Homo sapiens: one gene and its partners. The protein of the gene in region 4 interacts with the protein of the main gene of each other region in a biochemical or structural test. Each region holds a gene or a part of one and is shown on either strand. Other genes may lie near its edges.

What was found. Proteins that work in one complex are often made in the same cells at the same time.
Region 1: the proteins of RSRC2 (region 4) and APBA1 interact in a test that uses a peptide from one of them, tested with the Homo sapiens proteins (one large-scale study listed by IntAct).
Region 2: the proteins of RSRC2 (region 4) and PARD3B interact in a test that uses a peptide from one of them, tested with the Homo sapiens proteins (one large-scale study listed by IntAct).
Region 3: the proteins of RSRC2 (region 4) and LNX2 interact in a test that uses a peptide from one of them, tested with the Homo sapiens proteins (one large-scale study listed by IntAct).

The regions. Positions count from the first base shown.
Region 1 is NC_000009.12:69,429,202-69,431,371, forward strand, and holds part of APBA1 (amyloid-beta A4 precursor protein-binding family A member 1), read right to left. Parts: coding exon 2,126-2,170; 3' UTR 1-2,125. UniProt on the Homo sapiens protein: Putative function in synaptic vesicle exocytosis by binding to Munc18-1, an essential component of the synaptic vesicle exocytotic machinery. May modulate processing of the amyloid-beta precursor protein (APP) and hence formation of APP-beta.
Region 2 is NC_000002.12:205,300,975-205,304,474, reverse strand, and holds part of PARD3B (partitioning defective 3 homolog B), read right to left. Parts: intron 3,012-3,500; coding exon 2,774-3,011; intron 1-2,773. UniProt on the Homo sapiens protein: Putative adapter protein involved in asymmetrical cell division and cell polarization processes. May play a role in the formation of epithelial tight junctions.
Region 3 is NC_000013.11:27,579,030-27,582,529, forward strand, and holds part of LNX2 (ligand of Numb protein X 2), read right to left. Parts: intron 2,775-3,500; 5' UTR 2,675-2,774; coding exon 2,268-2,674; intron 1-2,267.
Region 4 is NC_000012.12:122,520,437-122,523,936, forward strand, and holds part of RSRC2 (arginine/serine-rich coiled-coil protein 2), read right to left. Parts: intron 1,864-3,500; coding exon 1,707-1,863; intron 997-1,706; exon of another isoform or gene 993-996; coding exon 949-992; intron 146-948; exon of another isoform or gene 76-145; coding exon of another isoform or gene 68-75; intron 1-67.

The sequences.
Region 1 (2,170 bases), on a different chromosome or scaffold from region 4:
CTTCATTCCTGTTCTATCCACTCTTATTGGCAGAGGAAAGATGAACTGGCTGATGACTCTTTAGTGTCTCACTGTATCACCAGATACTCTACAGCAAATGGAGAACCCTGGCCATGGTTCCTTCCTGGTCCTCACGTTTGTGATGGGTTGACCTTGAGGCTGGTCTCCCAGAAACATTCTGTAAAGCATCCTTCAAAGAAGTCCTGGGGAGCTTTACGGACCATCCCAGAGCCCCTGGCCCCACCGGGTGCCACTCTCTGCAGCAGCAGAAGTCCCTTTCCCCCCAGGGCACCTGGGCAGCCAGCGGCCTCCCTTCCTCAGGGCTCCTTTGTAACACAGTGAAACTGAGAGTGCCACTGCTCGTTCCTGTCAAGCACTGAGCTTCCCTGATTCTAAGCAGAAAACTCAGAAGATGCAGAGATCTCGGGGAATTGATCACAGAACTCTCTGGTTGAAGTCTCTTGTCCCTAATCTTGTTATAGTCACTTTGCTCCCTCCTTAGAATCCCTCCATTCTCTCTATAAATACATGCTACCCACCATTTGCTCACTGAGTTCCTATTTCCATAGACACAACATAAATATCTCGGATGCAGAGAACAGGGACTATATTAATTACAAAATATAATAGTTTCTCTTCCCCTGTCTCTACTGAGGTCATGAATGAAACAAAACAAAAGCAAAGCCAAATCACACCTCACATGAACACAAAATGCTCTTTGGACCAAGTGAAAACTGGCTCAGAATTATAATATTACTAAAACATCTACACTGAACTGAGACGGAAGCATAAATATGAGGCACCTGATGAAAACACGGAACAATTCCACACCAGCCAAAAATGCTCTCAGGCCCACAAGGCAGCAAGAGGGTGTTTATGGACCACATCTGGGGATTCTGAGGCATAACTTGAGGTTGCTATTGTCTCCTTAATTTTGTGGTTTATGTACTATTCTGGCCTTTCCAATATCACATCCGCCTAGTGGCCCTGAGCAGAGAAGAAAGTTGGTCTTGCCTTGGGCCAGAAAACAAGACGCAATTGCACCTGCAGCTTGCCTTCTTGGGAACAGTCCCTCCTTCCCAGACTCCTGGGATGTGTGTTCGGCAGGGAGGGGAGTCCAGGAGGAGGATGCTTTAAGCCAAAGTGGTGCTGGAGGGGCTGGGCCTCAGCGCAGAGAGGGCAGGTCTCTCAGGATGAGGCTGAGCAGCCCCCGCCTGCCTGGCCACCTGCCAGGGAAGGGGCCTTCCAGAGAGGTGGGTTTCCAGGGGATCTGTGTGCCTAATCTTCAGCTTGTCTCACTGGTGGTGGGAGCAGGGAAGGGTGATATGCAAATGGGACTGTGTGTGTGTGTGTGTGTGTGAGAGAGAGAGAAGCAGACAGTACCTGCCTGTGTTTATCTAATGGTTGATAACTTGAGGACAACCTGGTAAAGCTTCAGATGCCCCATGAATTGCCAAGCTCTCTGTGACACTATGGTGTCCTTGCCCAAGGCAGTTATTTCCCCTTTTATCCTGGGGTGAGAAGGCTCGTATTAGAAAACACACATACGTTGAAATTAGAACTAGCAATAGAAGAGGTTTAAGGTTGGCTCAGAGATTCTGGGAAGAAATAATGTATGGTGCCCCAACTACATGGCAGGCAGTGCATAACCTTAATGACGTGGGCTGGCCCTGGGTACTACCACATTCCCACAGATAAACTCAGAGAGCAGGGATCAGCAACTGGGTTTTAGGCACTGCTGAATCAGCTGCTTTGCTGCCCCGCGAGCTCCTTTTAAGAAGTCTGCACCTCCTGGGAAGGGAGGATTCTCCCTCAAGCAGTGACAGCCCACCCCCTGGACACACCCAGAAAGCCCTCCAGGATGGTCCTGGGTCAGTACCAGGTGGGTGCTGGCTGCTCTCCATCCTCAAGGGAGTGCATACGAAACTTCCCTGGTATTGAAAAAAAAAAAAAAAAAAAAGCAAATCGGAGAGAGTAAAGAGGTCCTTGTGGATTCTTCTCTTCCTGTGTAAAACCAAATGCTGGGCGCGAGAGGGGAAAGTCTCAGTGGACACAGGGATGCAGCACGAGAAACACAACCACGAAGAGGAGAGTCCTCCATGCATGCCACCGCGTGTGGCCGCGGTCAGATGTAAACAGGCTGCTCCTGGGCCGTCAGCAGCCTGTACAT
Region 2 (3,500 bases), on a different chromosome or scaffold from region 4:
TAGTAGAGAAGGGGTTTCTCCATGTTAGTCAAGCTGGTCTCGAACTCCTGACCTCAGGTGATCCGCCCGTCTTGGCCTCCCAAAGTGCTGGGATTACAGGCTTGGGCCACTATGCCTGGCCAAAATTTTGTTTTTTAATATTCAGATAGCTATTATGACATCAGGCCTGCTGGGGTAACCTCACCCCAGGTGATAGCAGGACCGCAGCAAGTCTTGTCATAACACATCCAGGGGCAACATCGCTCCCAAGATTTTGAGCATGAGGAACCTTGCTTAGCATTTCATGAGCACTGGAAATGTAACGGGAAGGCTCACTGCTAAGAGGATTATTTGTATTCCCTAAATGTCACTTATATATGGAATGATGGAACTTTCTTTTCTATGTAGAAATTTCAGCTGATGATCACAAAATGAGAACAATTGGTAATAAATACACGCAGCATTCTTAAATGAGGTATCTCCTAAGGGTTTCATAAGAGGTGGCCAAACTGGCCCCTAAACCATCATCTCCCATCATTCACCTTCAGCCCACAGAAGTATAGTGATCAATTGATTTGAGAAGAAATTATAGGAGTAAAGACAGTAATAGAAAGGGGTACTTCTGCCTGTAACACCCAACAAAATAAGTGAGGGGGCTACAAGTAAACCCCTTAGGGAATTTGGAGGTAATTGTATAATAGGAGATTGTCACCCCACTTCCTACCTGTTTATTTTGTGACTTGCAAAAATTGACTGCCTCCTCCCTTCCCCATGCATGACAGCATTCTTGGGAGAGTCTGATGTGTGCTTCTGGAGTGAGGAGGCCCAGAGCTGGTGTGGGATGTGCTGGAGAAGTCTGAAGATGCAAGGCTGGTTGGAACATCTCTATGGTGGGGTGAGGAGGAGCGGTACAGTGGGAACAAGCTGTACTTGCATCATTTGGAGGGTGGGAGATCAGGAACTCTAATAAGCCAGGTAGATGCTGTGGCTGTAAGTTAAGCTAGAGCTGTCTCAAACTGGCACTGTCCAAGAAGTCTACCAGCCGGGGTAAGGAGACTCAGGGGTATATGTCTGAGGTCAGAGGCTTAGGGAAATAGGTCAGTGGGAAAATCACCTACATTAGTGACTGGTATAGTAAGGAGCACTCTAAAAAATCCACAAAAGTAGCCACAAAGATTCCTTGATGGCCAGATTATACCAGATAATGCCAGTTAAGTAAAATCCTATCCTATTGAATCTTGTCTTTGTCTCCTGGTTCCAAAGACTGAGAAATAGGAGAAGGTGGAATCCTGCCTCCCACCATACCATAGGATGCTCCTTGTGGTTCAGGTCCAACAGGCAGAAAGGAAGAAAGCTTTCATTTATATTGGATTGCATATTTTAGCCCCCGACAAACAAGTTGCTTTTTTTTTTACCCAAAAGTGACCAGAAAGCTATCAGCCAGAAAGCTGAGATGTCAGGGTGTGGAAGAGGCAGCCTCAACAGTTTATACTTGAAGGGGAGAGAAGAAACAAAGCTGTTTTCTGACTGTGCCATGTTGAGCCCCGTCTAGTCAATGAATGTATAGCATATGAAATCATATCTCACAACTGTGCTGGGTCAGTAGAGCAAGTATGCTGGCCTCATTTTAAAAGTAAGGAAAGTAAGGCTCAGGGAAGCTAAGCAATGTGTGTGAAGCCCCATTGCTCATGTGTGGGGAGTCATGGATCCAGACTTGGGCATCAGAGCCCAGACCCAGTGACATCTCCCCTGTACCACAGTGCCTCTGGAGGTGACAAGTGATGTGCCCAGAGGCCCGGCCACTGCACACCTAGAGTCACAGAGGGATGAGGTTCATCTACCCTGACTCCCCTGCTTCAAAAGAGGTATTCCAGAGGTAACACATAGGGCTTCCCCACTTCCCACTTTCCCTGTGGTGTCAGAGGAAGTATTTATTTTCATAACACTTTGGTACAAAGGACTGCAGGCATTGTCCATGCCTCTACTAAGTATTGGCCTTTCTTTTATGGTGTAATCATAGCTCACTGCAGCCTTGAACTACTGGGATCAAGCCATGCTCTGGCCTCAGCCTCCTGAGTACTTGGGATTACAGGTATGCACCACTGTGCCTGGCTAATTTTTTTTTTCTTAGAAATAGGGTCTCCTGCCTGAAACCCCAGCACTTTGGGAGGCCAAGGCAGACAAGGCAGATCACTTGAGGTCAGGAGTTCAAGACTCCTGGCCCACATGGCGAAACTCCACTCTACTAAAAATACAAAAATGAGCTGGGCGTTGTGGTGCATGCCTATAGTCTCAGCTACTAGGGAGGCTAAGGCAGAAGAATCGCTTGAACCCAGGAGGCGGAGGTTGCAGTGAGCCGAGATCACGCCACTGCACTCCAGCCTGGGCGACAAAGCGCGACTGTCTCAAAAAAAAAAAAAAAAAAAAAAAGAAAAGAAAAAAGAAAAAAAGAATAGGGTCTCCCTACCTTGCCCAGGCTGGTCTTGAACTCTTGGGCTCAAGCAATCCTCCCAGCCTCCCAAAGTACTGAGATTACAGGCATGAGCCACCGTGCCTGGCATAGTGTTGACCTTTCTTTGACAACAAACTTAAGACAGTGTCCTGTCATCACTGTAACTTTCCCCAAAAAGCTCCTCTGCCTCTGCAGAAAGAGAACGAGCACAGAATTGAGAGCCGTATGCATTTGGCTGAAGACGAGGAAAAGCGTGCGCTTTTTTCTGAGTACAGACAAAGGAGTGATTTTACCAGGAGAGACAAAATGAGAACCAACTTTGCCTTCAAAGCAGGCCCATACCTCAGCATGGCGCCGAAGCCCTTCTTCTTTATTTTCCTTTCTGGATCTTCATTCTCCTCTTTGCGCTTTTTCTCCTTGACTTTCAATTTGCCCTTTTCCTTTTTCTTCTCCTTCTCTTTCGTTTTTTTGACTTTCCTGGCTTTATTTTCCATGTCCTCTAGCTCCGAATTCCCCTGAGGGGCAGACTCACAATTCAGAGCTCCTTGGCCAGAGTGAGAGCTCTTATCAGACAGACCGTCTGTACAGAGAAAAAATAATCAATACCCATGGTCAGGGGCACACTCAGTTAGTATACAGAGAAACGCTAACATGTAAAATGCAAAAGAATGAATAACAGCACTCTGTAGTTCTACCCTTCTATGTGGTTACGTGCGCCCTTTGAAGATCTGACTGCCTAAATCTGGTTACTTCGAGCAAGACTTGATGCTGGGAGTGGGGACAACCGGTTGCTTAGCTGGTAGTATGAAAGGCTTGATATGTGTTCAAGCACTAATCTCTCTGAAAGCTGCCTTGTTAACCTTGATCAGCTCAGAAAGCCTGCATGCTGGGAAACAAACAGGGTGAGAAGAGAGTTTTGAGTACAAAATATCCCAACTGCTTCTACCCAATTAATGCAGTCGGAGTCCTTGGATTGATGCTGCCTCTAATGACTCGAATGAGAATGTCAAGAAATGCATACTTAGTGCTCCTACCCTAAGGGTAAATGACAGTTGGTCCTTGTAGAAAA
Region 3 (3,500 bases), on a different chromosome or scaffold from region 4:
AGACTATAAAGACATGGTTCTGTTTCTAAAGGAATCTACAACCCGGCATTAGATTCTAACTTGCAGAGACTACCTAACACCTAGAAAAGTATCTGGCACATAGCAGATAATCAATATTTGCTGAATAAACAAATGAACTATATTATTTAGGGTTGAATGTTGTATAATATACATTTCTACCTGAATTTCAATGTTCTTATTTAAGAGAACAGAGAAAGGTCAGGCTGTTCATCACTATCTGTTCAAATGGCATATAAAAATCATATTACATTTTATAATTTTTTTACATTTATATACTCAGTAATCACTCTTAGCTGTCTGTATCAGGCAAATCACCACCTTTTCCAATCATCCATCTTTTCACTGTATCTTTCATGTTACAGGCCTAAGATACTTTAGAAATGATAAAATTGGTTACTTCAATACTAATAAGCACAGCTGGAAAATGAAACCTTCAACTGGATAAGCCTTTACCAACATGTAAATGAAAAGGCAGTTTGCAATTACCAAGGTTTTTTACATTCTCATTATAAATGGTTTGATAAGAAACACTAGTAATAGTTCAACTGCAAATTAAATTCTTGAATGCATGTTAAAGGAATATTCCTGAAAATCTGTGAAACTGTTATCTTTCAGCTCTCAAAATCATAAATAACTGAACTGACATTTCATTCAGTTCCTCTAACATCTCATAACTGATGTTTAGAAAAGAAGCCTATACACTGAAAAGAACAGTTCTACTGAAAGAAGCAGCCTGAAATATTCTTCAGCCATAACTAGTCCTGACTCAGACTAGTATATTCAAAAGACCAGTGTCAGTTTCCAGGAGGCCTCTGCCATCATGTTCAGATTCTATGCTTGCTGGTTACAGAAGATATAAAAAAATGCAATGCTACATTATTACACGCATTTTCAAAAGTCTGTCTATCCTACTCTATCTTACCTCCTAGTTCTAGACAACACAGTTTAGAGTTAAGCATTCTATAAATCTAAATGTTTCCAACATTTTAATAACATCTTTGTTTTTTTCATTGTTTCTCATGTCTTAACTCTGATGTTTAGAAATAAATATCAACAATATATTGATACAAAATGAATGTGTATTTCATGTGCACATGAATGAAACTTTTGCTACATAGCAGCAGAGAACATGACTTGACCTACGATAGAGTCAACATGGTTTATTAGAATAGTAAACAAGAACAGTAAAGCTTGAGTCTAACTACAGCATTAACTAAATTTTTGTGACTCAGTCTCCTTATTCATAAAATGAGGGGGATTAGATAATCTCCTTCAAGTCTATGATTTTATGTGTGAGTATAATAGCAAGCCATTCTATATCAGACTTACACTCTTACATCTAAGTCCAGTATGATGTAGTATGCATTGTTTTTCACAGCAATCGAGATTACTGCAGATTTATACTGTAAAACTGGCTTAACTTGAAATTAGAAACCAGTATTTATTTCTGCCATTTTATGTGATTCTACACAAATGACGTATACTGTAACTCTTCCTAAGTTAAAGATCAAGTCTTTTAGCAAAATCAAATTATAAAACTCATCAGCTAAATAAATTACTTAACCTTTTAAAAAGCTTTTATGAGAACAGAAATCCCCACTAAATATTTAGTTTTCCAACTCCTAATTCTTGTTCAGTCTAGTCCCTGAACCCAGAATCTTTACAAGATCTTAGCAAATAAAATAATGTATTTATTTCCATATTGCAACAAAATTATCGTTTTTATTGGCTGCATAATATCCCACTGAGTTTATGTGCATAGTATTTTTTAACCCTTCCCTACTTTTAAATAACTGATTCCAATTTACCAAACTATGCACAATGTTGCACTGAACATATTTACATACAATTTTTCCTGCTTTTAGATTATTTCCTTAGGATAATAAACTAGATAAAAGGAGATTTACATTCATATAGTTTTTAAAAACAAACTGCCAAACTGCTTTATAGAAAGAATCTATCATAATATCCTGTCATCTATTTGAATATATCAGTTTCATATTACAGCAGCAGAAATATTAACAGGTATAAAACAGTACTTCCTCACTGTAGTTTTTGTATTCATGTTTTTGATAAATAATGTTAAATACTGTTCCATACAACTTATTTATTGTATCTCTTCTGTACTTGATTCACCCATTTACTTACTAGTGCTCTGGTTTGTTTTGTTTTAATCAAGTTTTTATGTTCATTTGAACCACCTTTTTCCAAAATCTGGAGTTACTTCTTTTATATTTTTTGCTTACCTGTTTTTGAGATGTGCCTCCAGATCACAACGTTGCATTACATCTTTGCACACTGAAGAAAATGGACATAAAACTAATAATTTGTCTAGGAGTTTATGAACTAGAATACTAGACTTCTTGCACAACTTAAAATGAAGTCTTTTCCGGTCCAACGGACAGAAATCTTTCTCTTGTAAAAAGTTTCTGAGGCACTTGTAGCAGAATGTATGTCCACAGGGTGTGTCTAGTGGCTGCAGCAGAGGTTGAAGGCAAATATGGCAGACTAGGTCATCATCCACTTCATTCTGGTAATTGTACAAATGGTTTTCTCTTGTCCAGTGCTGTTGGCCACATTCAAAACACAGGGGGTTTAGAGAAGAGGAGGAGGTCTGTTCCACAGACACCATCTCATCACTTGTTGTTCCCATTTTGAATCAATTCTGTATCCTCATGTGTTAGACTTCCACTTCACGCTTGGTTTCCTTTAACAGACAGTGATGTATCTGACTAAAGTCAAGGTGTGTTTTTCTAGATAAGCAAAACAAACACATTAAAAAAGGTAATTAATATCAATCAAGATAGGTTAAAAGTATCAATGTAATATTACTGGTTAGCTTTTTTTAGTAAAAAATTAAAGGTTGAATCAGGTAATAAATTAGTCATAAAAAAAGAAATTAATTTTCTAGTTGGCTAAGAAGGACTTACACTGCCAAGTTCTTTTTTATTATAAGTTTTAATTGTCTCTTTTGATTTTTTTATTTATTTGCTTTTTGAGTCAGGGTCTTGCTCTGTCACCCAGGCTGGAGTGCAGTGGTGCAATCTCAGCTCACTGCAACCTCTGCCTTCCAGGCTCAAGTGACTCTCCCATCTCAGCCTCCCGAGTAGCTGGTACTACAGGTGCACGCCACCATGTCCTGTTAATTTTTTTGTATTTTTTTGTAGAGACAGGGTTTCCATGGTGGAAAGCCCAGGGTGGTCTTGAACTCCTGGACTCAAGCAATCAGCCCTCCCAAAGTGCTAGGATTACAGGTGTGAGCCACCGTGCCTGGCTCCCACTGTCAAGTTCTTGATAAAAAAACAACTTTTGATGAAAGGTAAAGACACCATAGATTATATAGTGTGACATAAGAAACAATCGATTTGTTTTACTGACTGAAATCCCCAAATATGTCACTGTTCAATGGTAGTTTTAAAGCCAATTAATTGTGCTAATAGTAATGCTGTTTGAGGTATATAATACATTTGCATGTCATC
Region 4 (3,500 bases):
CATTAAAACCCTTAACTGATTTAAGATATATTTAAGGGAAATAGGAGTTTGAATGACTAATAGTTACCTTATCATGAAGTAGGCTTATTATTTTGCTATCTGAGTCTGCAGCGTCTTCAGTTCAGTCTCTTCGCGCATAAGCACGCTGAGTATGATTTATTATAGAAATGTTATCATGTGAGCTAAACAAAATAGTCATTTTCACAAAAACTCTCCTAAATTAAAAATTTAACAGAGCTTCCATTACGGGAAGAGGTGAAGTCCCTGCCCACTCTTGTTTTAGGAGTCCCTTACCCAGCCCCCACAAGACTCTTCTCCCTTTCTGGCTACTACTTCTACACTTCCTTATTGGCTCATTCTTTGTCTTCTCAGGTGGGTGAACAAGTAACTCCTTTGCAATACAGCTGCTGCCTTTCTTTTTCCTCAAGTTTTGGTGTCACCGCCACCTTTTCAGCTGTCCCTCACTCAAACCTTTATTTCAAAATTCAATACTACTATTAGGGAAACTGAACTAGTTTGCAAAAGAAAAGAGAACTCCTGTTATCGTTCATAAGGAAAAAGCAGCGCACAGATATCTAGGGTATTGCTATGTAAAGATGATTGCTGTTTAAAAATCCTGAGCAACTGTCAGGCACCAGGAGACTCGGGACCTCAGATTAATGGAAGCTCTGTGTGACAGGCCTAAAAAAACCAATCATATTCTTCATATGAAATTTTTATTGTGAATATTTTCACAATATAATAAAATTAAAGTTTTGAAGGTACTTTTCACATAAACATCTTCTTCAAAAATGATGAATCAAAATCATGCTTATTTTATAACCCAATAAACCTTTTAAATTTCAAGTTTTGTACTTACCTTGACAACGTCTTATATTCATACAAATCTTTCTACCAGACACTTTATAAGTATTTTAAAGTACCTATTCACTACAAAGTGTTAATTACCTCTTTGCTTCTGCTCCGGCTCCTGTGTTTTCTTCCTTCATTATCTGTGAATACACAAAAAAAATAATCACCATAAACAAAGTTGGAGAAACATTTCATCTTAAAAAACTCTTAATGCTGGAGAAAAATGACTCCCATTAGTCTTCTTCCAATGACTAATTTTTTCATGGCACGGGTGGGATTATTCTACATTAATACAACACACATGTGAAACAAATCAAGCAATCTGAGCAAACCAGGACATAAAGCAGCCTAGATACATCTTTTAAACGGTCATAGACTTTCAGTATTTTACATATATTCTGACCAGCCCATCTAGTTTCCTAGTCTACAGCAAATTCATAAGGGGGTTTAATAGAGAGAGGTAAGCCATTAAGAAAAATAAAAACTAAAGAAAATAAACAGGTTGAATTATATTTGATATGTTCCAACATGGTGAAACCCAGTCTCTACTAAAAATACAAAAATAAGCTAGGCGTGGTGGCGCACGCCTATAATCCCAGCTACTCAGGAGGCTGAGGCAGAAGAACTGCCTGAACCCAGCAGATGGAGGTTGCATTGGGCTGAGAGTGTGTCAATTTTTGTATTTTTGGTCCTGGCTCAGGTGATCTGCCTGCCTTGGCCTCCCAAAGTGCTGGCATTACAGGCTTGAGCCACCATGCCCAGCCAACAAACTAAATGTATGTGTCTTCTTATACAACAGGTCTACATATCTTATACAAATGCTGAGAGTTGTAACCACCTTTAAGAATTCATACCTGACTTTCGTTTTCTTTCTCTTGACCTTGATCGTGATCTTGAATAATGATGTTTTGAAGCTCTAGGAGAAACAGATACTTCTGACTGCTCTTTTTTCTTATCTCTATCTGGTGATGTCTTTTCTGGGGCTAGTCCATCTCGCTCTGTATCACTAGCCTAAAAGTTTAAAAACAAATGATTAAAGTTCTTAATTACATTTTAAATGTTTTCAATTTCTTAAAAGAGGGACAAAGGGAGGGAAGATAGCCCCCCACAATCAATAAATCAGAATGCCTGCTTTCCAAGTAACTAAATGTGCTTTGTACACTAATAAGGCTGAATGGCTTGAAATGACGAACCTGATACTAAAGCAAGACCTACATATTTAGACTGATGTATCTTTAATTTTCTAACGATGATTTGTATAACTTTTAAAACATGGGGTGGGGTGGGGGAGGAATAAGGGCTCCAAGTAGTTCTAATAAGCATTCAAGCAGAGAAAATAGTCCTTTTTAGATGTGTGAATGCATTTAGCTGACTTTACCAATACTTTTAAATTAGCATACATGTCAAACATCAAAAATGAGTTGTTAAAGCTTAAAGATACTCAAGACGATAAAATCTTAAAACAATGCCCTAAGAATATTATAAAATAATAAACAGAAAATTAACTTACCTAAGTGAGAACCTCATCTTAATGTCATTAACCCTCTTTAATGAAAACAGCCCCTTGGCACAGTGCTGCTGCAAAATATGGTCTGCCTCTCCTCACATGTGCTCTGGGCTATGAAAACATTAAGTTGTTTCTGCTTTAAAGCATTTTATAAGTAATTATTACAATATAAATTTTACAAGTTTCAACTAATGCAGAAGGTAGACAATGCTCGGCTATCTGACCAGAGAAGATAACATGAAAATAAAATAATTGATACACCTGGGGAATTGATTACTTAGGAAGGGTTGGCAAGCTATGGTCCTCATTCTGTTTCTGTATGGCCTTGAGCTAGGAATGGTTTTTTACGTTTTTTAAAACTATTTTAGGCATATTTAATAAATAACTTCAGTAAATAGCACTGTAAAGACTGAACTGTTAAAACTAAAGGCACTTAAAACGCCAGTGTTGTGGCTCATGCCTGTAATCCTAGCACTTTGGGAGGTTGAGGCAGGCGGATAACCTGAGGTCAGGAGTTTGAGACCAGCCTAGCCAACATGGTAAAACCCTGCTTCTACTAAAAACACAAAAATTAGCCAAGAGTGGTGGGGCGTGCCTGTAATCCCAGCAACTCAGGAGGTTGAGACAGGAGAATGGCTTGAACCCATGAGGCAGACGTTGAAGTGAGCTAAGATTGCGCCACTGCCCCTCCAGCCTGGGAAAGAATGTGACAGAGACTGCACATGGCCCACAAAGCCAAAAATATTTACCGTCTGGCCCTTTACAGAAACAGTTTATGGACTTTTCACGTATAACATCAAACGGAATCTGGATTGAATAAATAGGGAATCGATAGTCTTCAGCAGGAGGAATCACATTAGAGAACTTCCTCCTTTAGGAAAGTTAGTCCAGAAAATGAATACCAAATATCAAGTACAATAAATGGGGGTATTGTATTTTAACAAATTTTAAACAAGTATCAAGTACAATAAATGGGTGTATTGTACTTTAATAAATGAAGTTGTGAGAGGTCGAGTTACTTCAACAAGTATTTACTAAGGGTCAAAAATGTGCCAAAACCAATGCTAGACTTAGGGAATAAAATGATAAATTAAAAACAGAAAGGTTTTGCAGTTCAATTATGAGATGAAAGACATAAATT